Linked DNA regions of Homo sapiens. The protein of the gene in region 2 interacts with the protein of the main gene of each other region in a pairwise test. Each region holds a gene or a part of one and is shown on either strand. Other genes may lie near its edges.

What was found.
Region 1: the proteins of NEK7 (region 2) and RBM5 interact in binary tests that used the Homo sapiens proteins (3 or more experiments, as listed by UniProt).
Region 3: the proteins of NEK7 (region 2) and RASSF2 interact in binary tests that used the Homo sapiens proteins (3 or more experiments, as listed by UniProt).
Region 4: the proteins of NEK7 (region 2) and C6orf58 interact in binary tests that used the Homo sapiens proteins (3 or more experiments, as listed by UniProt).
Region 5: the proteins of NEK7 (region 2) and ARHGEF28 interact in binary tests that used the Homo sapiens proteins (3 or more experiments, as listed by UniProt).
Region 6: the proteins of NEK7 (region 2) and IDH1 interact in binary tests that used the Homo sapiens proteins (3 or more experiments, as listed by UniProt).
Region 7: the proteins of NEK7 (region 2) and RBM17 interact in binary tests that used the Homo sapiens proteins (3 or more experiments, as listed by UniProt).

Annotation. Positions count from the first base shown.
Region 1 is NC_000003.12:50,095,419-50,098,918, reverse strand, and holds part of RBM5 (RNA-binding protein 5), read right to left. Parts: intron 1-3,500. UniProt on the Homo sapiens protein: Component of the spliceosome A complex. Binds to ssRNA containing the consensus sequence 5'-AGGUAA-3'. Regulates alternative splicing of a number of mRNAs.
Region 2 is NC_000001.11:198,313,998-198,317,497, forward strand, and holds part of NEK7 (serine/threonine-protein kinase Nek7), read left to right. Parts: intron 1-3,500. UniProt on the Homo sapiens protein: Protein kinase which plays an important role in mitotic cell cycle progression. Required for microtubule nucleation activity of the centrosome, robust mitotic spindle formation and cytokinesis.
Region 3 is NC_000020.11:4,785,609-4,789,108, reverse strand, and holds part of RASSF2 (ras association domain-containing protein 2), read left to right. Parts: intron 1-840; coding exon 841-892; intron 893-1,354; coding exon 1,355-1,476; intron 1,477-2,780; coding exon 2,781-2,878; intron 2,879-3,500. UniProt on the Homo sapiens protein: Potential tumor suppressor. Acts as a KRAS-specific effector protein. May promote apoptosis and cell cycle arrest. Stabilizes STK3/MST2 by protecting it from proteasomal degradation.
Region 4 is NC_000006.12:127,580,174-127,583,673, forward strand, and holds part of C6orf58 (protein LEG1 homolog precursor), read left to right. Parts: intron 1-91; coding exon 92-276; intron 277-1,008; coding exon 1,009-1,109; intron 1,110-3,500. UniProt on the Homo sapiens protein: May be involved in early liver development.
Region 5 is NC_000005.10:73,939,843-73,942,490, forward strand, and holds the end of ARHGEF28 (rho guanine nucleotide exchange factor 28), read left to right. Parts: intron 1-1,001; coding exon 1,002-1,171; 3' UTR 1,172-2,148; downstream 2,149-2,648. UniProt on the Homo sapiens protein: Functions as a RHOA-specific guanine nucleotide exchange factor regulating signaling pathways downstream of integrins and growth factor receptors. Functions in axonal branching, synapse formation and dendritic morphogenesis.
Region 6 is NC_000002.12:208,238,072-208,241,571, forward strand, and holds part of IDH1 (isocitrate dehydrogenase [NADP] cytoplasmic), read right to left. Parts: intron 1,933-3,500; coding exon 1,792-1,932; intron 1,163-1,791; coding exon 1,000-1,162; intron 1-999. UniProt on the Homo sapiens protein: Catalyzes the NADP(+)-dependent oxidative decarboxylation of isocitrate (D-threo-isocitrate) to 2-ketoglutarate (2-oxoglutarate), which is required by other enzymes such as the phytanoyl-CoA dioxygenase.
Region 7 is NC_000010.11:6,099,034-6,102,533, forward strand, and holds part of RBM17 (splicing factor 45), read left to right. Parts: intron 1-2,237; coding exon 2,238-2,354; intron 2,355-3,500. UniProt on the Homo sapiens protein: Splice factor that binds to the single-stranded 3'AG at the exon/intron border and promotes its utilization in the second catalytic step. Involved in the regulation of alternative splicing and the utilization of cryptic splice sites.

The DNA.
Region 1 (3,500 bases), on a different chromosome or scaffold from region 2:
CTCCATCCTTTAGTCTAATCTCCCTGTCCTTTGTTCTGCAGGATAGTACAGTGGCTCAAGCCTATAATCCTAGCGCTTTGGGAAGATGAGGCAAGATGAGCGCTTGAGCACAGGAGTGTGAGACCAGCCTGGGGAACACAGTAAGACCCCATCTGTATACAAAAATTTTAAAAATTAGGCCTCGCATAGTGGCTCACGCCTGTAATTCCAGCACTTTGGGGGGCCAAGGCAGGTGGATCACGAGGTCAAGAGATGGAGACCATCCTGGCTAACACAGTGAAATCCCGTCTCTACTAAAAATACAAAAAATCAGCCAGACGTGGTGGCACGTGCCTGTAGTCCTAGCTACTTGGGAGGCTGAGGCAAGAGAATCGCTTGACCCCGGGAGGCGGAGGTTGCAGTGAGCCGAGATCGCGCCACTGCACTCCAGCCTGGGCAAGAGTGAGACTCCGTCTCAAAAAAAAATAATAAAATAAAATAAAAATTACCCAAGCATGATGGTATACACCTGTAGTCCTAGTTACCTGGGAGGCTGAGGTGGGAGGACTGTTTAAGCCCAGGAGTTCGAGGTTACAATGGGCTATTGCACCACTGCACTCCAGCCTGGGTGACAAAGTGCAACCCTATCTTTAAAAAAATAAAAAAATAAAAATAAGGACTCAGATGAGATTTAAAAGAGGCAGTGGATGCGTCACTGTGCCCTGAAGTACGCCTAATCAAGAATAGCCTTCCTGCTCTTTGAGGCCTACTCTCAAAATAAGGAAAAAAATCAACAGCCAAAAAATGAAGAGCCTGATGATAAACTTTTTTTTAAATTTTTTTGAGATGGAGTCTCACTCTGTTGCCCAGGCTGGAGAGCAATGGCATGATCTCGGCTCACTGCAACCTCCGCCTCCTGGGTTCAAGCAATTCTGCCTCAGCCTCAAGAGTAGCTGGGACTACAGGCGCATGTCGCCACACCCAGCTAATATTTTATATTTTAGTAGAGAGGGGTTTCACCATGTTGCCCAGGCTGGTCTCCATCTCTTGGGCTCAGGTAATCCACCCACCTTGGCCTCCCAAAGTGCTGGGATTACAGGCGTGAGCCACCGCACCAGGCCAGGTAAACATTTTTAATGGATCATACTTTTCTTACAGTTAAATTATTGGTAAAAATTTTCAAAGTTCATCACATTCTTAGGCTCCTAATAAATCAAACATTAATTGGGGCTAGAATAAAGTATTCTGGCTGGTAGGCTTGTTCCAATGTCAGACCAACTCCTTTTTCCAAAAGGCCACAAAAATATACTAGTCTCTTCATCAATAATATCAGGCATGAATACTACCATGAAAAAAAAAACAGGGTGAAATTTGTGGAAACAAGATTCTCACTGGCCTCTACTTTCCATAACTAGGTGCAACGGCTGCAAGACTACACACAGCCAATCCTCATTATCCTCAGGTATCACACCTGTGAATTCAACCACTCATTAAAATTTCTAACACTCAAATCAATACTTGTAGCAGTTTCTTTTTTTTTTTTTTTGAGACAGTCTTGCTCTGTCGCCCAGGCTGGAGTGCAATGGCACGATCTCGGCTCACTGCAAGCTCCGCCTCTCAGATTCATGCCATTCTCCTGCCTCAGCCTCCTGAGTAACTGGGACTACAGGCGCCCGCCACCACGGCTGGCTAATTTTTTTGTAGTTTTAGTAGAGACAGGGTTTCACCGTGCTAGCCAGGATGGTCTCGATCTCCTGACCTTGTGATCCGCCTGCCTCAGAATCCTAAAGTGCTGGGATTACAGGCGTGAGCCACCGCACCTGGCCAACCCTCAGTAATATTCTTTTAGGCTTAGCTAGACTTTTGAGAACTCTAGCCCCTAGCCACAATAGCACTTTGCCACTCATCCCTCTCCTGCCAAAAGCCTCTGACTCCAGCCAAATCAAGCCGATTGCTAGGCCTTATCTAGATTCAGTACCTTTCTATTCCCTGCTCATGTGATACCCCTCCGCCTGAAGGGCCCATCTACCACACCATTCCCTTAGTTTTCCACGCCTATAATCCTAGCACTTTGGGAGACCCAGGCGGGAGGATTGATTGAAGACAAGAGTTCAAGACCAGTCTAGGCAATAAAGAGAGACCTTGTCTCTACAAAAAAAAAAACAAACGATAAAAAAAAAAATTAGCTCGGAGTGGTGACACATGCCTGTAATCCCAGCTACTTGGGAGGCTGAGGCTGGTGGATTGCCTGAGCCCCAAAAGTTGGAGGCTGCTGTGAGCCACAATCACGCGATTGCACTCCAGCCTATGCGACAGAGTAAGGCCCTGTCTCACAAAAATAAAAATAGAAGATTCCTTACCCTCCACTAGTAACAATTTCCTTTAAATAACCTTCAAGAGCTCTTAGGCAGACCTCTTTCAATAGGACCTTTTCCGACATGACCCTCTTTTTGAGACAGGGTCTTGCTCTGTCGCTCAGGCTGGAGTGCAGTGGCGTGAACACAACTCACTGTACCCTTGACCTCCTAGGCTCAAGTGATCTTCCTGCCTCAGTCTCCCAAGTAACTGGGACCACAGACAAGCGCCATTAAGACTGGCTATTTTTTTTTTTTTTTGGAGAGATGCGTCTTACCATGTTGTCCAGGTTGGACTTGAACTCCTGGGCTCAAGCACTCTTTTCACCTTGGCCTCCCGAAGTGCTGGGATTACAGGCATGAGTTACCATACTCGGCCTCTGACCCCTTTCTATTCTGCATTGTCACCATTATCTGCTGACCTTAGCTACTCATCCATAAGCTTTTTTGAGGCAAGATCCATAGCTCTGTGTCACTGTAGCATCTAACATGTACAGTGTAGCAGATGTGCAGTGGATCACAAATAATGGAATGATTACCCACTATTAACTCTAATATCCTGTCTCACATTTGTCACATTCATTACTTCCAGGGTTTAGAAACCCAAAGCTACGGGAATCCAATGCTTATTTTGAGCTTTATCCAAAATTCAACTAAACATTAGTCAGAATATTACTTTGATTACTCCAAGAAAACAAATACTGGCACACTGCTGTTTTAAAACCTCACATTCATTTTTACCAAGAGCACTGGCTGAGTAACATACTGTGTTCAAGGGTTGGGGACACAGAGGTGACTAGTTCACACAGAGGCCTATTTTCAGAGATCTTGTGGTAGAGATGAGACATGTGTGTTGATGGCTACAGTAAAGGTGCTACACAAAAGTCATGAATACAGTGCCTTAGGAAGAGAATAACGAAGAAGAAGCTCTGCCCGATAGATCAGGCTTTACATACAGGCGTCTCCAAGCAGAAAAAGGCACAACAGTAGAGCAATGGACATGTCCAAAGTCCAGGATGTGGAAAGTAGGGTGTGGCTGGAAGGAAGGGTGAGGACCAGAGATGCTGCTGGAAATCAGGCAGTGCCAAGTACACTAAGACTCTAATTGGCCAGTCTGAATGAGCCGTCCTTTTTAACAAGCTTTTCTGAGGTTTCAAATGGGTAGTT
Region 2 (3,500 bases):
AGTTCTCCCGGATAATATCCTGCAGAGTGTTTTCCAACTTGGTTCCATTCTCCCCGTCACTTTCAGGTACACCAATCAGACGTAGATTTGGTCCTTTCACATAGTCCCATATTTCTTGGAGGCTTTGCTCGTTTCTTTTTATTCTTTTTTCTCTAAACTTCCCTTCTCGCTTCATTTCATTCATTTCATCTTCCATCGCTGATACCCTTTCTTCCAGTTGATTGCATTGGCTCCTGAGGCTTCTGCATTCTTCACGTAGTTCTCGAGCCTTGGTTTTCAGCTCCATCAGCTCCTTTAAGCACTTCTCTGTAATGGTTATTCTAGTTATACATTCTTCTAAATTTTTTTCAAAGTTTTCAACTTCTTTGCCTTTGGTTTGAATGTCCTCCCGTAGCTCGGAGTAATTTGATCGTCTGAAGTCTTCTTCTCTCAGCTTGTCAAAGTCATTGTCAGTCCAGCTTTGTTCCGTTGCTGGTGAGGAACTGCATTCCTTTGGAGGAGGAGAGGCGCTCTGCTTTTTAGAGTTTCCAGTTTTTCTGCTCTGTTTTTTCCCCATCTTTGTGGTTTTATCTACTTTTGGTCTTTGATGATGGTGATGTACAGGTGGGTTTTTGGTGTGGATGTCGTTTCTGTTTGTTAGTTTTCCTTCTAACAGACAGGACCCTCAGCTGCAAGTCTGTTTGAGTACCCGGCCGTGTGAGGTGTCAGTATGCCCCTGCAGGGGGGTGCCTCCCAGTTAGGCTGCTCAGGGGTCAGGGGTCAGAGACCCACTTGAGGAGGCAGTCTGCCCGTTCTCAGATCTCCAGCTGCCTGCTGGGAGAACCACTGCTCTCTTCAAAGCTGTCAGACAGGGACATTTAAGTCTTCAGAGGTTACTGCTGTCCTTTTGTTTGTCTGTGCCCTGCCCCCAGAGGTGGAGCCTACAGAGGCAGGCAGGTCTCCTTGAGCTGTGGTGAGCTCCACCCAGTTGGTGCTTCCCGGCTGCTTTGTTTACCTAAGCACGCCTGGGCAATGGCGGGCGCCCCTCCCCCAGCCTCGCCGCCACCTTGCAGTTTGATCTCAAGACTGCTGTGCTAGCAATCAGGGAGACTCCATGGGCGTAGGACCCTCCGAGCCAGATGCGGGATATAGTCTCCTGGTGCGCCGTTTTTTTAAGCCCGTCGGAAAAGCGCAGTATTCAGGTGGGAGTGACCTGATTTTCCAGGTGCCGTCTGTCACCCCTTTCTTTGACTAGGTAAGGGAACTCTCTGACCCCTTGCGCTTCCCGAGTGAGGCAATGCCTCGCCCTGCTTCGGCTCGCGCATGGTGCGCGCACCCACTGACCTGCGCCCACTGTCTGGCACTCCCTAGTGAGATGAACCCGGTACCTCAGATGGAAATGCAGAAATCACCCGTCTTCTGCGTCGCTTACGCTGGGAGCTGTAGACTGGAGCTGTTCCTATTCGGCCATCTTGGCTCCTCCTCCCCATCTATGGTGGGCCTTAGCTTTTCTAAGAGGTATGAGGAGCCATTGAAATGCTTAAAGTTGAAGCATCACCTGGCTAGTTAGGCAGTGCTAGAGAAATAGGAAGACAACTGAAAGCAAAGCCGTCAGCTGGAAGACTATCCAAGAGTGTGGCAGTGGAGATGGTGTGGCAGGAGCAAACAAAAGGTTTAAGGAGCCTGAGACCAATAGGACTGGTTGCTGACGGTTAGGCAGGTGGGAAGGAAGTATGATGAGATGTTTGATATGAATTTCAAATTTTTGACTTAAGAAGTTGGAGGTGCTGTTAGGAAGAGCTGGTTGGGGAGAAAAAAATACTAATATTTCAGTTTTAAACATGTTTAATGTGAATATTTACGTGCAGCTCTACTCAGAAGGCAGTTGGAAGTATGGGAACAGAGCCTGCAAAGAGGTCTAGGCTGGAGACAGATAACCTGTGTTCCTCAGCATGTTGGTGGTTATTGAAGGCATGGGAGTAAGTGCAGTTGTTGAAGATAAGAAGGAAGAGTGAAACAGGAAAAGAGTTAAGGAAAGGAAAATATTTAGGGCATACCAACATTTGGTAGATTTTTCAAAGGAAGATAAACCTCCAAAAGAAACTAGGAAGAAAACGTCAGGGAAGAGAAGGTCTAGGCCGGAATTGAATGATGTAAATCCAAAAGGATAGAGCTGACCAGGATGAAAGGGATTGGAAATGGTCTCAGTCAAATCAAACACAACCATACTGGAGGAAGGGAGGGAGAGACACAGAAGGACAGTTGTGTGTGCTTACATTTCTGATGTGACACAGCATTTTAAGAAACAGGCTGTGTCCTTGGAAGACAGAGACTAAATTGGTATGAAGGTGAAGATTACAGTCAGGTAATCAAAGAGATTTATATTGATTCACATCAAATAAATGTGAAAGTGACCCAAGATGAGGGTTGCAGTACTTGGAATGGAGAAGGATACTGTCAGCTGTGTGGGTATCGATACCTCCGTGTACGAGGTGCAACAACTCATAGTTAAACAGATTTTAGAAAAAGAGGAAAGTAATTATTTCCTCCTCTGGGCAGCCACACTTAATCTTTTACCTTTATCTCACAGATATCTCTTGAGATACCTATCACTTTGTAGTTTATAATAGAATTATTTCTGTGATTTCCTCACTTTCACATTTGTTTCTTTGTTCTGTCTATCTTCCGCTAGATTGTAGGCTGTTTAAGGGCCTGTGCTGTGTATTTTTCATTATTGCTTTATCCTTACTACCTAACAAAGTGTCTGGTACATAATAAATACTCCATTGGAAACTATTGAATGAACAATTGAATGAACGGATGAAAATGGAAGAGGGGGCAAAAAGAAAGAACAAAAGAGTCAGATGGTTAGAAAGGAAAATGAGTCATTCTCTCACTTCTCATGCTGGACAACAAGCCTTCCCTTGTGGACAGGTCCTTTGTCTTATCCGGTGCCATCAAGTATCACCAGCATAGTGTCTCTTGCAGAGTAGATCATCTAGAAATGTTGCTGGAGTGGATAAGTGGGAGCATTCCCAAAGCATATTTTAATTTCGTAGGTTTTCTTTCTTTTTATACTTTATTAATTTTTTAATGTAACAAATAATTGAGGAAAAGTTATCAACAGATTGATTCATAAATATAGTAAAGTATGCATATTCTGTATTTCACATATCTGATTTTATATGGTGATAGCCCTTTTGATTCTTCTGGAAAAGGAAACTCTTTATGACAAGATACACTTCGTATTTGGTGGAGATTGAATCAATAAGTGGGGAAGGAAAAGCAAACTCCAAGGTGCTGTGGCTCTGCCTGTCGCAAGGTCACCAATTGACCTGTCATCCCTTTGAAAGGCCATCCTTAAAGGAGCAGTTTAGAAGCATCTGCTCACTGGCACTCCCACTACCTATTTACCTTATTCAGTGTCTTTCTCCCTTTTTGTTATTCCCAATTCTTGTCTTTTTACTTTGGTGAACTAGAGAATCACTGTCTGCTTCAACTAAACGTGCATCATTATATCT
Region 3 (3,500 bases), on a different chromosome or scaffold from region 2:
TCTGTGTTTTCCACAATCTCTTGGAGACCAGAGATCTTTTGGAGACCAGGTGTTCTTATTTTTAATGGAAGCCAGTGTAGCCTAACAACCTAAGAACACAGGCTCTGGGTTCAAATCTCCACTGAGCACCTGCTAGTTGGATGAATTGGGCAGGTTACTTAACCTGCCCCTGCCTCTGCTTCGTCATCATAAAATGAGGATAATGGGACTTCACTATGGTATCGTCGTGAGCATTAGATGGGTTGAAGCCTTTAACATTTGTAGAACTATGCCTGGCACATTGCAATAGACGATAGCTGTTATCTATCCTAGTCGTGTGCTACAGAATGACCAATTTGGTCAATGATGCACCACATATACGACAGTGGTCCCGTAAGATTATAATCCATTTTTTATGGTACCTTTTCTGTGTTTAGATATGTTTAGATACACAAATGCTTACCATTGTGTTACAAGTGCTTACGGCATTGAGTACAGTAACATGCTGTATAGGTTTGTACACTAGGAGCAATAGGCTATATACCATATGGCCTAGGTGTGAAGTAGGCTATGCCATCCAGGTTTCTGTAAGCACACTCTATGATGTTTGCACAACAATGAAATTGCCTAGTGACACATTTCTCAGAATGCATCCTCGTGGTTAAGTGCATGACTGTATTATTGATAAAGTCATCTGCCTTCTCGATCTTCTCATCACTTCTGAGAGTTGTAGATAAATAGCTCTCCCCTCAAAACAGCCTAAAATTGACTTAGCTTTGCATTGCTAAAGAAGAGGAAAAGCCTCGAAGTTGGGATGTTTAAATAGAAACTTTCAACAAGAATCTTTTGCTCCTGCTTCAGATTGAGAATTCAGCAGAGGAGTTTGCCTTGTACGTGGTCCATACGAGTGGTGGTAAGTCTGAAGACCACAGTGTACTTTAAAACTTCTAATTAACTCAAAATAGCAAGTTAAAAAAATACCTCTGCCTCCTTTGCTTGTTGTTTGAGTTTTGGAAACTTCCAAATGTTGTTTGCCTTCAAGGCTGATGGGCTTGCTGTATGAGTCTACTAGGGATTGCCTTATATGGCCAGTAAACAAATTCTAAACCTAACTGCCTATTAAAAGAGGAACTAGATTTTCTTAAGAGACAGATAAACCCAATTCCTCCAAGGAGTTTGAGGCATGGTGGTATTGTTGAGGGGTGAGGAGTGGGAGGAAGTTGCTTTTCACAACACCTATGGAATAGTTCACTTATAAATCAGTCTCCTGACGTATATGGCGGCATCTCCTAAGGTGCCTTTGGACCCCTGCATTAACCACTACTTAATGTGAGAAAGGCCTCTCAGGGCTGCTCCTGGGTGTGTGTGGTTGCAGAGAAACAGAAGCTGAAGGCCACCGATTACCCGCTGATTGCCCGAATCCTCCAGGGCCCATGTGAGCAGATCTCCAAAGTGTTCCTAATGGAGAAGGACCAGGTGGAGGAAGTCACCTACGACGTGAGTTCCCTTTGGGTCAGGCGATCTGTCCTCAGGAGGGTGGGGATTTGGTTGGACCACCTGTAACTGGGGTATAGAATGACTTTTTTGACCAACGACCATGCCCCCTTTTACTTCTTCAGCACCAGGTTCTCTCGAAGCCAGCTTTTGCAGAGTAACAAACATCTCCAAATCATAGTAGCTGACAACAGCAAACATTTGCTTTTTTGCCCATGATTCTGTGGTCTAGTAGCAATGGCTCTACTCTAAGTATGGGTTGAGTTCAAGTCTGCACTGTGTGACTCACCCAGAGGCCCAGGCTTTTGGGGCAGTAGTTACTGCACATGGGTGTGGTCCTCATGGCAGATGGCGGAGCATGAGAAACCAGGCCAAATCATGTAAGCATATTTGAAGCCTCCACTCAGATTTGGTGTGTCATGTCCACACACATTCCACTGGCCAAAGCCAGTCACATGGACAAGCTCAGCATTAATAGGGTAGAGAAATGTACTTATCCCAGGGAGAAGAGTTGATAGAGCAGGGTGGGGATTCTTGTGGGGAAAGGGAAGCCATTTTTTAACTTTTTTTTTTTTTTTGGGATGGAGTCTCGCTCTGTTGCCCAGGCTGGAGTGCAGTGGCACCTCCCTGGTTCAAGCTATTTTCCTGCCTCAGACCCCTGCGTAGCTGGGACCACAGGTGTGCACCACCATGCCTGGCTAATTTTTGTATTTTTAGTAGAGACGGGGTTTCACCATGTTGGCCAGCTGGTCTTGAACTCTTGACCTCAAGTGATCCGCCCGCCTCAGCCTCCCAAAGTGCCGGGATTACAGGCATGAACCACGATGCCTGGCACCGTTTTTAAACTTTAACTCACCCCATAGCCACCCACAGCCTCTCCAAAGCGAGTTCATATTTGGATGCTTGTTTGAGCCTTGAGACCCAAATCGTCATCTGGAACCCTGATTCCTTCCATTCTCTTAGGGGAGAACAAAGGGGTTTATTAAACATAATGGGTTCAGTTCTTTCTCTGCATCACTGTGTCAAAAGAAAGTACTTTTCTGTGTTTGGCTTCACCTCATCATGAATTGAATGCATGACATGAAAAATGAGAAGTTATGAGATGGTGTCACGTAAGCGAAGCGATCATCGCAGACTCCTTCCCACCCTGGTGAGGAATGAGGCTTGGCTGCTGCCTTTAAGGAAATCCTGGGTTTCTGAAAAAAATAGACTTCCCAAGGCTTTGTGCCTTGTATAAGGACAACCCTGAAAGGAATTGGAATAATGCTGGGAAGGGCATTCACCCAGACTTGCTTCTTTCTCTCTAGGTGGCCCAGTATATAAAGTTCGAGATGCCGGTACTTAAAAGCTTCATTCAGAAGCTCCAGGAGGAAGAAGATCGGGAAGTAAAGAAGCTGATGCGCAAGTAAGTGTGGCTTCTGGGGCACTGGGTGCACTTCTCCTGGGGCCTCAACAGAGGGGCCTCTGCTGGGTCCTCGCAGGGACTGTGCTGAGCTGCTGCATGGGCCTGAGTCTCGGCTTTCTTTGGAGGGCTGCCCATTGACAAACCTGGATTTCAAGTGAGGACGTGACAGTTAAGTGTGTTCATCTACTTCTTGTGTCAGCTTCTCGTTTTGATGTGGGACATCAAAGTGTCTCTTGTCCTCCCTCTTATGGAAAGACTCTGAAAAGAAGGTGTTGGTTTAAAATTTCTTTGGGGTCTAGATGCAGAAATAGGGAAGGTGACTGTACGCTGGTTTCTTAAGTATACGATCAGGCTCCCAGCAGGAGACAGATGCTCACTCCGATGAGGGTCTTTGACGGGTGTTTGAAGAAGGGACTATTTGCGAAGACTTGGGCAGAGTCTGGGGTAACCTCAAGGGATAGTGCAGTCCCTGGGGCTAGTGTTACCACCCCTTGCCTGAAGGGGTGAAGGCAAGGAGTGCTAACCAAGACCCGGAGGTTCCAGGGATTTCAGGAAGGCTGTCTTAGCCGTGGATGTAGCCTGAGCTACTGGCCTCCAAAATCCTCTCCTCTCCCCCTTCCTC
Region 4 (3,500 bases), on a different chromosome or scaffold from region 2:
TGAATTTTTTTATGACTTATGCCTTCCTTAAAAATATCCTCTTTGAAATTTGTTAGTGCTTGTAGTAATAGTAAATCTTTTGTTCTTACAGATTTGAATTATTTTCTGTCTTCATTACCCTTTCTTGCTGCGGTTGATTCTGGTGTAATGGGGATATCATCAGACCAAGTCAGGCTTTTGCCCCCACCCAAGAATGAGAGGAAGTTTTGTTATGATGTTTCTAGCTGTCGTTCATCCTTCCCTGAGACAATGAACAAGTGGAACACCTTTTACCAGGTTCCTTCTTTATACTCTTACGAGATAGGAAGAGAGTTTATTTTGTCATATAATTTCGTCTAGGATTTTTTTGTGCATTACATAATATTTTCCTTAGTATGCAGATGTAAATTGCTATGCATGATATATTAATAGTATATTGTAGAGTGTTATGAGTCATTAACACCTACTGCCTCAATACAGCATTAACATAAATCTATCCATTCTTCTTGCCTCAAATACATTATACAAAAATGGTGAGCATACAGGATATTTTGCTGAATGATTAATAAGCTATTCTGATTAATTGAGTCTTCATGTCCACTAGGATATTGGAAGAAATTTGACTAAAATCAATGAAGAAAAGATATATTTACTAGTACTTTAGTAGATTATTGCATTAGTTTAGATCTAATGAAACATTTTAAGAAGATATTTTTGTTACTCACGATTTTATGGTAATTTTAACAGTGTTAACAGGAAAAAATAAAGGCCTGATCGGTATAAAATATAAACTCTGAAAATACTTGAAGTTCAATACTTATAGATGCATATGCTATTATTAAAACTAATGAATATTTTTGTGTTATTTAAAGAGTGTTAGGCATTAAGGCCATATACATACTTTTTCTTAGAAATAAAATTCTTCTTTTATGTACAATATTGCTAAAATATATCTGAACATGACTAAATTTCAGGGAGAAGGATTTTATAGTTGCTCAAATATTAATAAATTTGACCTCTTTACCTTAGTATTTGCAGTCACCTTTTAGTAAGTTTGATGATCTGTTGAAGTACTTATGGGCTGCACACACTTCAACCTTGGCAGATAATATCAAAAGTTTTGAAGACAGGTAAGAATGAATCTTTAAAGTATCTCTATTTAATATGATAAATAATTTTGGGCATTATTTATATATTTTTCTTCTTCTTCTAGAGTGTTTTTCAATCTTTATATTAAATAATAAGCCTAACCATTGGAGATTATAGTGAGGATGTGTAAATATTTTAACATGATCAGGCTTAAAAAAGTGTTTTATGAAGAAGGGGAAAATTTTGAGAAAAAAAAGCCTTGCATGAAAAAACAAAAAAAAAAGCAACAGACAATACATTTTCCTAAATGTAGAAAACAAAATATAATATAAATATGTAGATGACCTTTATTATTTAATCATAGACACTGTTACAAGAAAAACTATAGATAAGATAAATGTAGCAGAATTCACTTAAGCAATGAATGATTCATTAATCAGCATCATCCTGAACCAGTAGAGGTTCAGAGAGCTTCACCCAGTGATGTGGGCAGGCAGTATTTATAGACAGAAAAAGAAAGTGACATATGGAAACACCTTGATTGGTTACAGCTCAGATTTGCCTCATTTGGACATAGTGTGGTGAGAAATTTGCCTTGTATAGGCATGGTTTGATCAGTTGGCAGCCTGTGATTGGCTGAAGCTCAGCTGCCATGATTGGCTGAGACCCATATTTGTTACAAGAAAATACTCTTAAGTTTGGTTGCAGTTTGTTTACAAACTACATTAAGTTGCAGTTTGCTACATATCGTGGCAATTTTAGGCCAAACTTAATTTAACAATTCCCCACCTTTTGGTCTGCCTCTCAATTTTGAGAGGTTGACCAAAACCTTGGGCATTGACATCACTCTCTGTCACTTTCATCATTGACTTATTTGGTATCAGTATGGAATTCACAGTTCACAAATCAGGACAGTTGACTGATTATTTATGTTCTCTTTATGTTTTCATTATTCTAATTTTAATGAGACCATTTGACATAGAATGAATAGCTGCATAAGAGGATTTAAGACTCTGGGGAGGTTAAGGTGCACCAGGGAAACTATTATGATGGCTGTCAGGAGGCTGATACTAAGAGACAGAAGGAACCTCAATGAATTGAACCAACATAAATCAAATATATAAATAATAAGCCAGAAGAAAAATCTACTTGTTTTAACCAATTGGCTTGTTTGTTGATTTCTTACAACTGAGCTTCTACCCTACCTGATGAATTTACTTAAGTACAGGAGGGAGTGTTAGCTAGCGCACATATTCCTCCCTAAAGGTAGTCCAAAGCAATCCGGTTACCTAATATGCCTTTAGCAAGAAAATCTAAAGAAGTTTGCTGGCCAATTGTAGCCTTTGCAGTAGAGTCAGCTGTAGTAACTAATGTATGAGACGTATTTCTAAGCATAACCTCCTTTACATTTATACAAAGCCAGGGAAGGAATTTTTTACCCAACAATACCCATTAAGAAGAATTCATACCTGCTGGTAAATTCCTCTTTATTCCATAGTTCAAATTAAGAGTTGCAGACCAATATCCAGTTTCCAATTAGTTATGGAGTGACAGGAGTACTCTTGGAATCCCTTAATTGTCGGTGGCTCCTTATTTTGTAATTATTGAGACATGGATTTGCCCACATATATGGTTGGTTGTTAAATCCTCCACAAATAAAAATATATTCTGGAAGAACCCTACAGATAGTCTCCTGTGTGAGATGCCTTGTGCGTTATGAGTCAGCATTATGAGTCAGCATTAGTAATATTTGTCTAAGGCCTCATTTTTTAATCATTGTATGGTTAGAAGATACTAGCAACTAAAGGATTAGGGTTATAAATTTGCCTACAAACGTCGAATTATCTTCCTTTTGTTTTTCAAATTCAATTCTGGCTTAATTTAATTACCATACTCTCATTATAGGTTTTGCCTACTGTTAGATTTAAACAGGCAATCTGAATATTTGAATCTAAAAGTCTAGCTGTTTAGAAAGAACTAGATATTGCACATGGAATATCAGTGAAATTTCTTACAGGGTGAACCAGAGTATCTCTAAGATCATGTGAGGATTTAGGTTTAACATGACATATGCAATACTCAGTTAAGTTCCATGCAGAAGTAATTGAGTATGAAATCTTCATTATCACATTATATTGCCATGTGTAGACAGAAAAGAAACATGGGCCAAAAAGGAAAAGGAGAAAAGACTTCATGTTGACAGAGGAGAAAAGACTTTATTCATGATCTTGGGAAAGCTGTCTACATCAAGGATGCCATCTTCTTCTGGGGAAAAAAAACGTTCCTAGTAAGCTTTACCTGGAGATCTCCGATGGGTGTACAGTCCCAGGGGTCTGGAGGGGCTCTCTTGAGTTGAGAAATGTGGATCCAAGACTCAAATCCCTGAAGTTGTGCTGCAAAAAAGAGCTTGGTGTGGTACCTTCTGATGGAGT
Region 5 (2,648 bases), on a different chromosome or scaffold from region 2:
TGTGGCGAGGGTTACAATGGCCTCTTTTTTTTCTTTATGTTCTTTAAATTTTTTTTTAATTTTAATTTTTATAAGTTTGTAGTAGGTGTATGTGGCCTCTTCTTAATGACTGAAAAATAAGCAGGTGGGCCTCAGAGCTATTTGCCCTCCTTTCCCACCTGGACTTCCATTCCTACTCAGGTTTTTGTTCTAACACAAGCTGGTTATTTGTAATTTTGCCATATGGCTGAGCCTGAGGGTGAGTGGTCAGTGGAACAAGTGCAGGGAAAATGGTTTGCAGCAAGTGTCTTTCTTCAAATCAAGCCTCCCTTTTGTCTCTCCTTGAAAATATAATATTAGAGGATTTTATCAGAAAAAGGGAGAATACACAGTGTCCTGCTGTTGCTAGGTAACCAGAAAACATCAAACCCAGTCAGAGCTGAAACTGGCTTGATTTTCCCTAGGAACCTGGCTGCTCTTGCTGAGTACTTTGTGTAGTATTAACAGATCTGTGATTAACAGCATAATGGTGAGGCTGGAGGGTCTCCTTCATTCTTTCACTTTTTACCCCCACCCCTTGACCACATCAGTAAAGTGCCAAATATGTTATTTGAGCCTTGAAGTCAATTCTTGACTGACAGATATTCTGAGGGAAGGTGCTCTGCAGATGCAAATATAGTTGATTTACACATAGCTGGAGTATATACTGTATTTCCATGACTTTCACCCATTTTAAAAAATAAATGGGCATCCCTTTTTCAGCAATAGCAGCGGTTTAAGATCCCATGAACAGTAACCCATATTTAGTCACAGGAGACATTTGTGCACACAATCGAACATATCTTAATGATATTGATGAATGATTTTGACACCTATTATGTTCCTTTCTCATTGGGCTTGGCCATTCTGTGGCTGACTATATGGGCACTGCATTTCCTAATCTTAGAGAGCTCTAACGCCAAGACATCTGCCTTGTACATCTCAGGTGGCCTCCTGTAACCTGTGCTGTCTGTTTCTTGCAGATTTGGACACCTCCCACACTGAGTCCCCAACCCCCCATGACTCAAATTCACACCGCCCTCAACTGCAGGCGTTTATAACAGAAGCAAAGCTAAATCTACCGACAAGGACAATGACCAGACAAGATGGGGAAACTGGAGATGGAGCCAAAGAAAATATTGTTTACCTCTAATTGTGTTGTCATTTTTCCAAACAAAACAAAACACTGGCACTTTTGGGAGAAACTTTTTGTCTCCATTCCTTATGTATGTGTGATTGTCTGTGTCCAAATTGCTTTAAGAATAATATTTAATATTTCCTGGAAGCTCATTTTTTTGGCATGAGTCTAATTAAATTATTGAAAGCCACCCTGTTTGTATAATCTTTAACTTATCAAATCTAATTTCAGATTTCTGGAGGAGAAACTAACTTGAATAAGCAGGACTATTTTAAAAGTTGTTTTGACGCTAGAGTAAAATTCCATGTCACATTTTCTACCCAATCATCTGGATTTCAAGATTCCTTTTAAGATCTCAATGAAGCAATTTGGATTTAAAGAGTGGTATTCACAAGGGGTGAACTTTCACAGTCAGGGCAGTTGCCTCAGTGCCCACATAGGCAGAGGAGGATGTGGGAAAGGGTTTTTCTCAGCTAGTTTTTGTGTGCTCATTTCTTCTGGGAGCATTAAAAGTGGTGATCTGTTACAGTCACTATTCAACTGGGCACGTGTTGTGATTGGTCAGTCACTGAGCCAGGGATACAGTCCGGACTTGCTTAGTACCTAAGCCTAATGCTGGTGGGGTTTCAAGACATGGTTCAGCATCATCTTTTAACAAGGCCCAGAGGCCCAGAGCCCCCATCAAGTCATTTTGATGTAAATAGTGAACTTTGTTAGAGCCCTCACTTCTATCAATCAGCTGTCCTGTCCCTGCCAGCACCTGGAGCACCAACTACCACTCCCTGGAAAGAACCCTTCCCTGCAGTTTTTTAAGGACAAAACTGCCCACTCCTCATTAAGTTTGCTGCCTGGATACACTTTTCCACAAAGGAAAACTGGCATATCCTGCCTTCCGAGTAGTATGGGTCTCTGTGTGAGAAACCAGGAGATATTTTCATCTTGTTCGGAAATACTTGTATGTATTTTGGTGTCAATAAATATCTTGTACCTCATTATTTTACTTTGTAATTTTAACATTATGTGTAGGACCATAGTAAAACATTCATTTCACACAGACATCTAATCTCACCTCGTGAAAAGTGAAAATAAAGGAAAACTATTAGATTCATCCAAAAATGCAACACCTACTGGGAGTGAGATGTGATAGGAACAGAAAAAAAAAAAAAAAAATCACCCGGATCTCAATAGTTTTTTCTCCCTACTTAAAGTTGTTAAGTTGGATATCTACATTGTGTTTTTACTTAGGCAAGTCCAATCCTAATTTTTTTAAAAGCCCCTTTTGGGGGCAGTCTTTTTCTGACTTTAGCTGGCTATTTTTGTAACAATTACATTAAAAATTCGGTGACTGATCTTTTCACAGAATGGATATAACTTATTAAACTTCTATTCAATCACTTCACCTCTAAGCTGAACTCTTCAATTACAACATGTATCTCCCATTCCTAAAGACATCTAGAAATATCTGTCTTTCCTCTTTCTTCAATAAAGTCTA
Region 6 (3,500 bases), on a different chromosome or scaffold from region 2:
GTCACGCAGGCTGGAGTGCAGTGGCACCATCTCGGCTCACTGCAAGCTCCGCCTCCCAGGTTCACGCCATTCTCCTGCCTCAGCCTCCCGAGTAGCTGGGACTACAGGTGCCCGCCACCACGCCTGGTTAATTTTTTGTATTTTTAGTGGAGATGGGGTTTCACTGTGTTAGCCAGGATGGTCTTGATCTCCTGACCTCGTGATCCACCCACCTCGGCCTCCCAAAGTGCTAGGATTACAGGCATGAGCCACAGCACCCAGCGAACACTGCAATCTTGTTGGAAATTTAAATTAAGAAACATGCAGTGACCAAGTATATCCCCATTATGGGGTATACTGACCCTACCTGGGACCTCTGCAGATGCACTGGTTGAGATATGGAGACAATCCCCCCAGGATACTGGCTACTATGTTCTCAGAAAAATTCTCAGTAAACATATGGGCTGTCAAATATTTGCCCAAATATTGGTTACAGATACTTAAGGGACTGTAATCAATTGCACACCTTAAACTTGTGCTGCTCACTTTTCTCATCAGTAAGTTAAAGAAAATAAAGGAGTAGAATAAAATAGCCTCTGAAGTATCTTTGTTTCTATTTGTCTATAATCTGCTTCTTAAAATTAAATAGAACCTTTTCGTTCAATGATTATCAACTAGATGGGATGTCAGCAAATTACAGCCCAGCACATGAACCAAATCGAGGCTGGTTTTGAACATAAAAGTTTGATTGGTACCAGCCACACCATTTGATTCTGTATTGTCTATGACTGCTTTCCTGCTACAATGGCAGAGGCAAAGTTGAATAGTTGTGTAGTTGCAAAAAGACTATATGTTCCACAAAGCCTAAAATGTTCACTATCTGACAATTTACAGATATCTGCTGACTCCTGAACTAGATGATGAATAACAATTTATATAATTCCAGAAAGCACCGATGCTCTGAGCCCAGTGAGGATAAGTGTTAATTTGACCATAGAAACTAGGGCATCTTATACTTACTTGGGTAAACCTTTAATGCAAGCAGCCAAGTCCTTGGTCATGAAGCCAGCCTCAATTGTCTCAATAGAGACTTCTTCCAAAGCATTTGCAAAGAAGGCAAGCTCTTTATTGTTATCAAGCTTTGCTCTGTGGGCTAACCCTCTGGTCCAGGCAAAAATGGAAGCTAAAAGAGGGGAAAAAAAACACAACACTCCAATCATCCTAGTTATAGAGGTTTCCAAATGTCTCATAGTTCCCCAAAACAGAATAGTTTTTTGTTTAGGTGACAGACTTCTTTAGATACTAACCACATGGGCTAGAAGTTTTAGGAGAGTTAGAAATATTTTACCAAACAGAAACTTTAAAAAAACACATTTTCATGGCATGGTACTAGTGTTTGAAACTTAAGGCATTTTCTAATTTGAAAAAGGTCACAATCTCTTCTATCTCTTGTCTATATTGGTCTCCTTTTTCCAGGCTGTAATCTCTTTTTGAAGTGCTATCTTTGAAACTTGTTAAAAGGATCTATCCATGTGACTTTTAGATTTGTAGCCTTATGTGACATTTCACTGCACCAGAGGTAAAGGAAAATGCTTGTTGATAACATTCCTCTCTGTAACCTATGTTCTCCCACAAAACAGAAAAGCAAATATTGTATATTTTAAGAAGCATATTCAAATAGATCTTACTAGTAGAACAAATCAGCTACTTGGTGATGACTTTGCACACAAAACACTGAGCAGCCAAGGGAACACATCTGGGCTGCTTTGGAGAGCACTCTCTGGTGAGAAATCAATGTAAACACCATCTTACCAATGGGATTGGTGGACGTCTCCTGTCCTTTCTGGTACATGCGGTAGTGACGGGTTACAGTCCCGTGGGCAGCCTCTGCTTCTACTGTCTTGCCATCTGGACAAACCAGCACGCTGGTCATCATGCCGAGAGAGCCATACCCTGTAAGTAGTGGAGCATGAAGCGTTGGGTCCAACTGCATGAAGAGCACTGAGTCTCTCAGAGATGAGAGCATAAATGACTCAATCTTGATAGGTCTTGGTAAGCAAAGTAAACAAGAGCACATGGAATCACCAATAATTCTGCCTTTCAGAAGGCAGGATCCCCGCTCCAGATATCAGAGCCAATGGGTCTGGAAAGGCTGCATTTTCCCCTCACTTATTTCAGGGATACCTACTCCTTGATGGAGGGTTCAGGGTCCAACTGCCTACATTCCACTCTAGTTCTATGACTTCATAGCTACTGCGGCTCAGTTTTCTTATCTGTAAAATGGGAGTAATAACAGCACCTACTTCACTAGGTTGCTGTGGGATTAGATAAATATACATATATTCATAAATATATATGAATATATATTTATATTCCTTAGAATAGTACTGGACACAGAGCTCAATCTATTATTGTTATTCTTATGTGCAATGCTCTGCTGTTCTGGGGAAATAAAGATGGACGAGAGCTGTCTCTTAAGAACCCTCAAGCTGCTCATACACTTGCTGGGACTGGGAAGAGAAGGCAGGTAAACACAGGATCGGTTGGATCTAAGAACATCCCAGTTGCCCTTCCTCGCTCTCTTTCATACCCTCAGTACAACAGTTCTCTTCTGTGGTTTCTTATTGAAAGAACCACATTACAACTCTTATATCTATATAATTGATTTTCTTCTTTTCTCCATTTTTGCTACCTCCCAACATCACCTGTGAAGTTAATAATCAACCACGGAGTCATCACAAAGCAATAACACTCCTTCCTCTGTTGCATTCAGTACAAATGATTGTGAGGATGTAGAGAAACAGAAGGATGGTAAGGAGAGTTGTGTAACTCATTTATCTGGCAAAAAGTTATCTTTAACCAGGTTGATCTACTGATTTTCAAACTGAGAGGAGATGTTTAACACTGATAAGAGACAGAAAAAGTAGTACTTCTTGGGAAAAACAAACATAATTAAAGTTAACAAACATTCATCTGGGGAGATTCAAGTTCATACAGCTACCAAGGGCAACTGAAACTGAAGGGCAACTTGGTGCTGAGGAAACCAGGCGCTGTGTTTCTGTTGATTTGGCCCTTACCCCATGCATGAAACTTCTCCTGGAATTTCTGTAAACAGCCCCTAGGGTTCTTTGCTCAATTGATTTGTGTGTAAGCTAAGCAGTAAACAAAAACACTTTTTCTTTGTTGTTGTTGAGACAAGAGTCTTGCTCTGTTGCCCAGGCTGGAGTATAGTGGCGTGATCTCAGCTCACTGCAACCTCCGCTTCCCAGGCTCAAGAAATTCTCATGCTTTAGCCTCCTGAGTGCCAGGGACTATAGGCATGCGACCACACCTGGCTAATTTTTTTTTTTTTTTTTTTTTGAAGTAGAGATGGGGTTTTGCTATGTTGGCCAGGCTGGTCTTGAACTCCTGGCCTCAAGTGATCCACTGCCTTGGCCTCTCAAAGTGCTAGGATTACAGGCGTGAGCCACTGTGCCCAGCCAAACACATTTGTTTTATATTCTACCAGAACAGCAGCTGGC
Region 7 (3,500 bases), on a different chromosome or scaffold from region 2:
AAACAAGGTTTCATTCCAAATGTAAGGAGGGTTAGCAAAACCTCGTTTTTCTCTTTAATTTTTTTTAAAAGTACATTTATAAAATCTTTGTAGATTTCATGTAACTTTTGCTTTGCAGGGAAGATGCAGGTGTGAGCCACCGTGCCCGGCCTCATATAGATTTTTAAAACTTGAGGTAGCTTGTGAAGTTATTTCTACTAACTTTATAAAACTTTTGAGATTGCTATGTACAGTTAGTTTTGTGGGTTTTTTTTTTTAAGGGAAGTGAAGATTGCATTCTCTTAGGCTGTTTAGTTACTCAGAATACTAGATTGGCCTAGCCAAACCTGTAAAGGTATTTATTTGGTAGAGAAAATTTGAAGCTGTGGTTTCATTTGTATCTCCATTTGAAAAAATACAGTTGTTTCTTGGTGTCCACAGGGGATTGGTTCCAGGACCCCCCTGCCCATACCAAAATCCAAGCGTGCCCAAGTCCCTTATATAAAATGGTGTGGTATTTGCACGTAACTAACACACATCCTCCCATATTTTAAATCATCTGTGGATTGCTTGCAATACCTAACACAATGTAAATGCTGTGTAAAAAGTTGTTATACCGTATTGGTTTTTTTATTTGTATTTTTTGTTGTATTGTTTTATTTTCTTAATATTTTCAGCCTGGGGTTAGATGTGGAACCTGTAGATACAGAGGGCCAACTCTATATTGAATAGAAAATAATAATAATAGAAAATATGTGATTCTGGCTGGGCGTGGTGGCTCACACCTGTAATCCCAGCACTTTGGGAGGCCAAGGCGGGTGGATCACCTGAGGTCAGGAGTTTGAGACCAGCCTGACCAACATGGTGAAACCTTATCTCTAATAAAAATACAAATATTAGCCCGGTGTGGTGGCGTGCATCTGTAATCCCAGCTACTCTGGAGGCTGAGACAGGAGAGTTGCTTCAACCTGGGAGGCGGAGGTTGCAGTGAGCCGAGATCGAACTCCAGCCTGGTGACAGAGCAAGACTCCATCTCAAAAAAAAAGAAAGAAAGAAAATATGTGATTCTAATAAATCCCCCTTCCGTTCTGTAAACTTTCGTATTTACTTTGTGAGTTGTTAATTGGATTAAATTTTGTTTGCTTAAATTTATAAGTATTGTTATATTCAAGAGAGATGAAGGCTTATTTTGTGCCTTTTATAGTGGTAATGAAAATTTGTAACACTTTAAATTGCAAAAGAGAAAAATTAAACCTTTCTAATCAAAAGATCTAATGGTTACCACCATACCCATATGATCAACCTTAGCATTGCTGTTAGACGGCCTGACGCAGTGTGCCTGCTGTGTGTTGCAGGAAGGGGCACACTGCCTCACCTGGGAAGTGTTCCTGCCTAAAAGCTTTACCCTGAATTCGATCAGGCCTTTAACCTCCAGGTTTCAGGAATTACAAGGCATAGAGGAACAAGCTCAACTAAATAACCAGGTAGTTATTAGACAGATCTAGAACAAACAGCATTTTACAAGATAGTGTCAGAGGAAAAAAAGGAAGAGGAGATGAAGATGATGGTGATGATGATGATGGGGAAGAGGGACTGTTCTTAATCAAGACACTTAAAAACCAAAAGCATTTCAGGAACTTTGGTAGGATCCTGGTTCAAAAAAAAAATCAGCTGTTTAAAGGACATTTTTGGGATATCTTGGAGAATCTGAATGTGAACTGGATGGGAAATGACATGGGAATTAGTGATTTTATTAGGGGTAGTAATCTGACAGGAGAATGTCCACGGTTTCAGGAGATTGGGGTGAAGTGTCATGATGTCTCCAACTTTCTTTCAAATGGTCTAGCAAAAAATACAGGTGTAAGGGCAAGAAGTATGGTAGAACATTAACAATAATTGAATGTATAGAAATGATTTTCTTTTAAAAACTTTTTTTTGTAGATTCATAATAAAGGAGATAGGAAGGATTCTATATCCTAGTAGGAGGGAACAAAACTCTTATCCCCAAGTATCTTTTGAAAGTGACTAAGTTTACTGTAAACCTTTCACAGAAATGGAGAAAATCTCATGTTTTTGAAAAAGCTGAAAGAAAATAATATATGATTATAGTAATAAATTAAAAGGCTGTTGTTTTGAGATTATGGTTTTCTCATATCTCAAAGGTTTGTTGCAGGGACCAGAAAGAAAATCTTTGTTGCAAACAGTGTGAATTTTAATTTGAAACTTCAGTATGTTTTCCTTGTTTTTGATGATTTTAGAGCCAAAGGACGAAACAAAGTACAGTCCTCGCCCCAGTCATTGACCTGAAGCGAGGTGGCTCCTCAGATGACCGGCAAATTGTGGACACTCCACCGCATGTAGCAGCTGGGCTGAAGGTAAGCCCGCGCCTGCCTGTGAGCTTGATACGTGTCTCTGTTCCCATGTGGCTTATTTTGCATATGAGTTACTCTTAACAGATGGCCTCCTTGGTGGGCCTTTGAAACCAAGTTAGTATCATTTTCCACCTAATTTTTACTTCTGTTTTGCCAATTTTAAAATGTATCTATTTGAAATTAAATAGTTTGTTGTAGAAAAATCAGAAACTAGAGATACGCAGAAAGAAAAACAAATTACCTTCAGTCATACAATCCGGAAGTGAAAAACGTAATATTTTTCCATCCTGTGCCTACTCCACCTTCTGCTAACTTGCTTTTCTTACTTAATACGTTGTGACTCTGTCAAAAAATACAGGACTGTATGATCACGTTTATGGCTTCACTATATTCCCTTGTATATAGATGGACTATAATTTAATTCCTTTAATGCTGGATATATGGGTTGTTTCTATTTTTTGCTATCATAAACAGTGTTAGTACTTACTGATTTATTGTGGATTAAAACAGAGAAAGGGGTTTTAAAACCCACTTCTACCACCCTAACCTGTATGATTCCAGTGATTTTACATATGCTTAAAAACAAACATGTGGTCAACTCTATAAATTGGGTTATTGAGGATGAAGAAGATCTGGAAAAGGATAACTCAAAATCATAGTTAAAACTAGACAAAATGAGGTAAAATGAGTGAATAAACTAGTTAAAATTATACCCACAATTTAAGTATACATTTATCTTTCCACAGATGGCGTTCAAATAATGACTGTGGTCATTTAAACAGCATCATGAATTGCACAAAACCGCTTGATGAAAAATGACCAAAAGATTAATAATAGTGCTATCGAGACAGTTTCTTAGCAAGGCGCGCCTGTCCTCCCCACCACCTGTGGGAAGGGCTGCATCAGGCTGGGGCAAAGGGCACACTCCTGCCCATCTGTTTCACGTCACTGTTCTGGGTTGGGCTCCGTCTCCTGCCTGTCCTGCTTATGTTCTGGGCCAGTCTGTGGCTGCAGCTTACCCTTGAGTTGTCCTTTTCTGAGGGGAGCGGGTGCTGTTCCTGAGGGCTGGTAGTTCTTCTGGAGGGGAAGCACCACATGGTGGAGGTGTTTTTTTGCTGATTCCTAGTCATTGAGCATTTTCCCCCATAA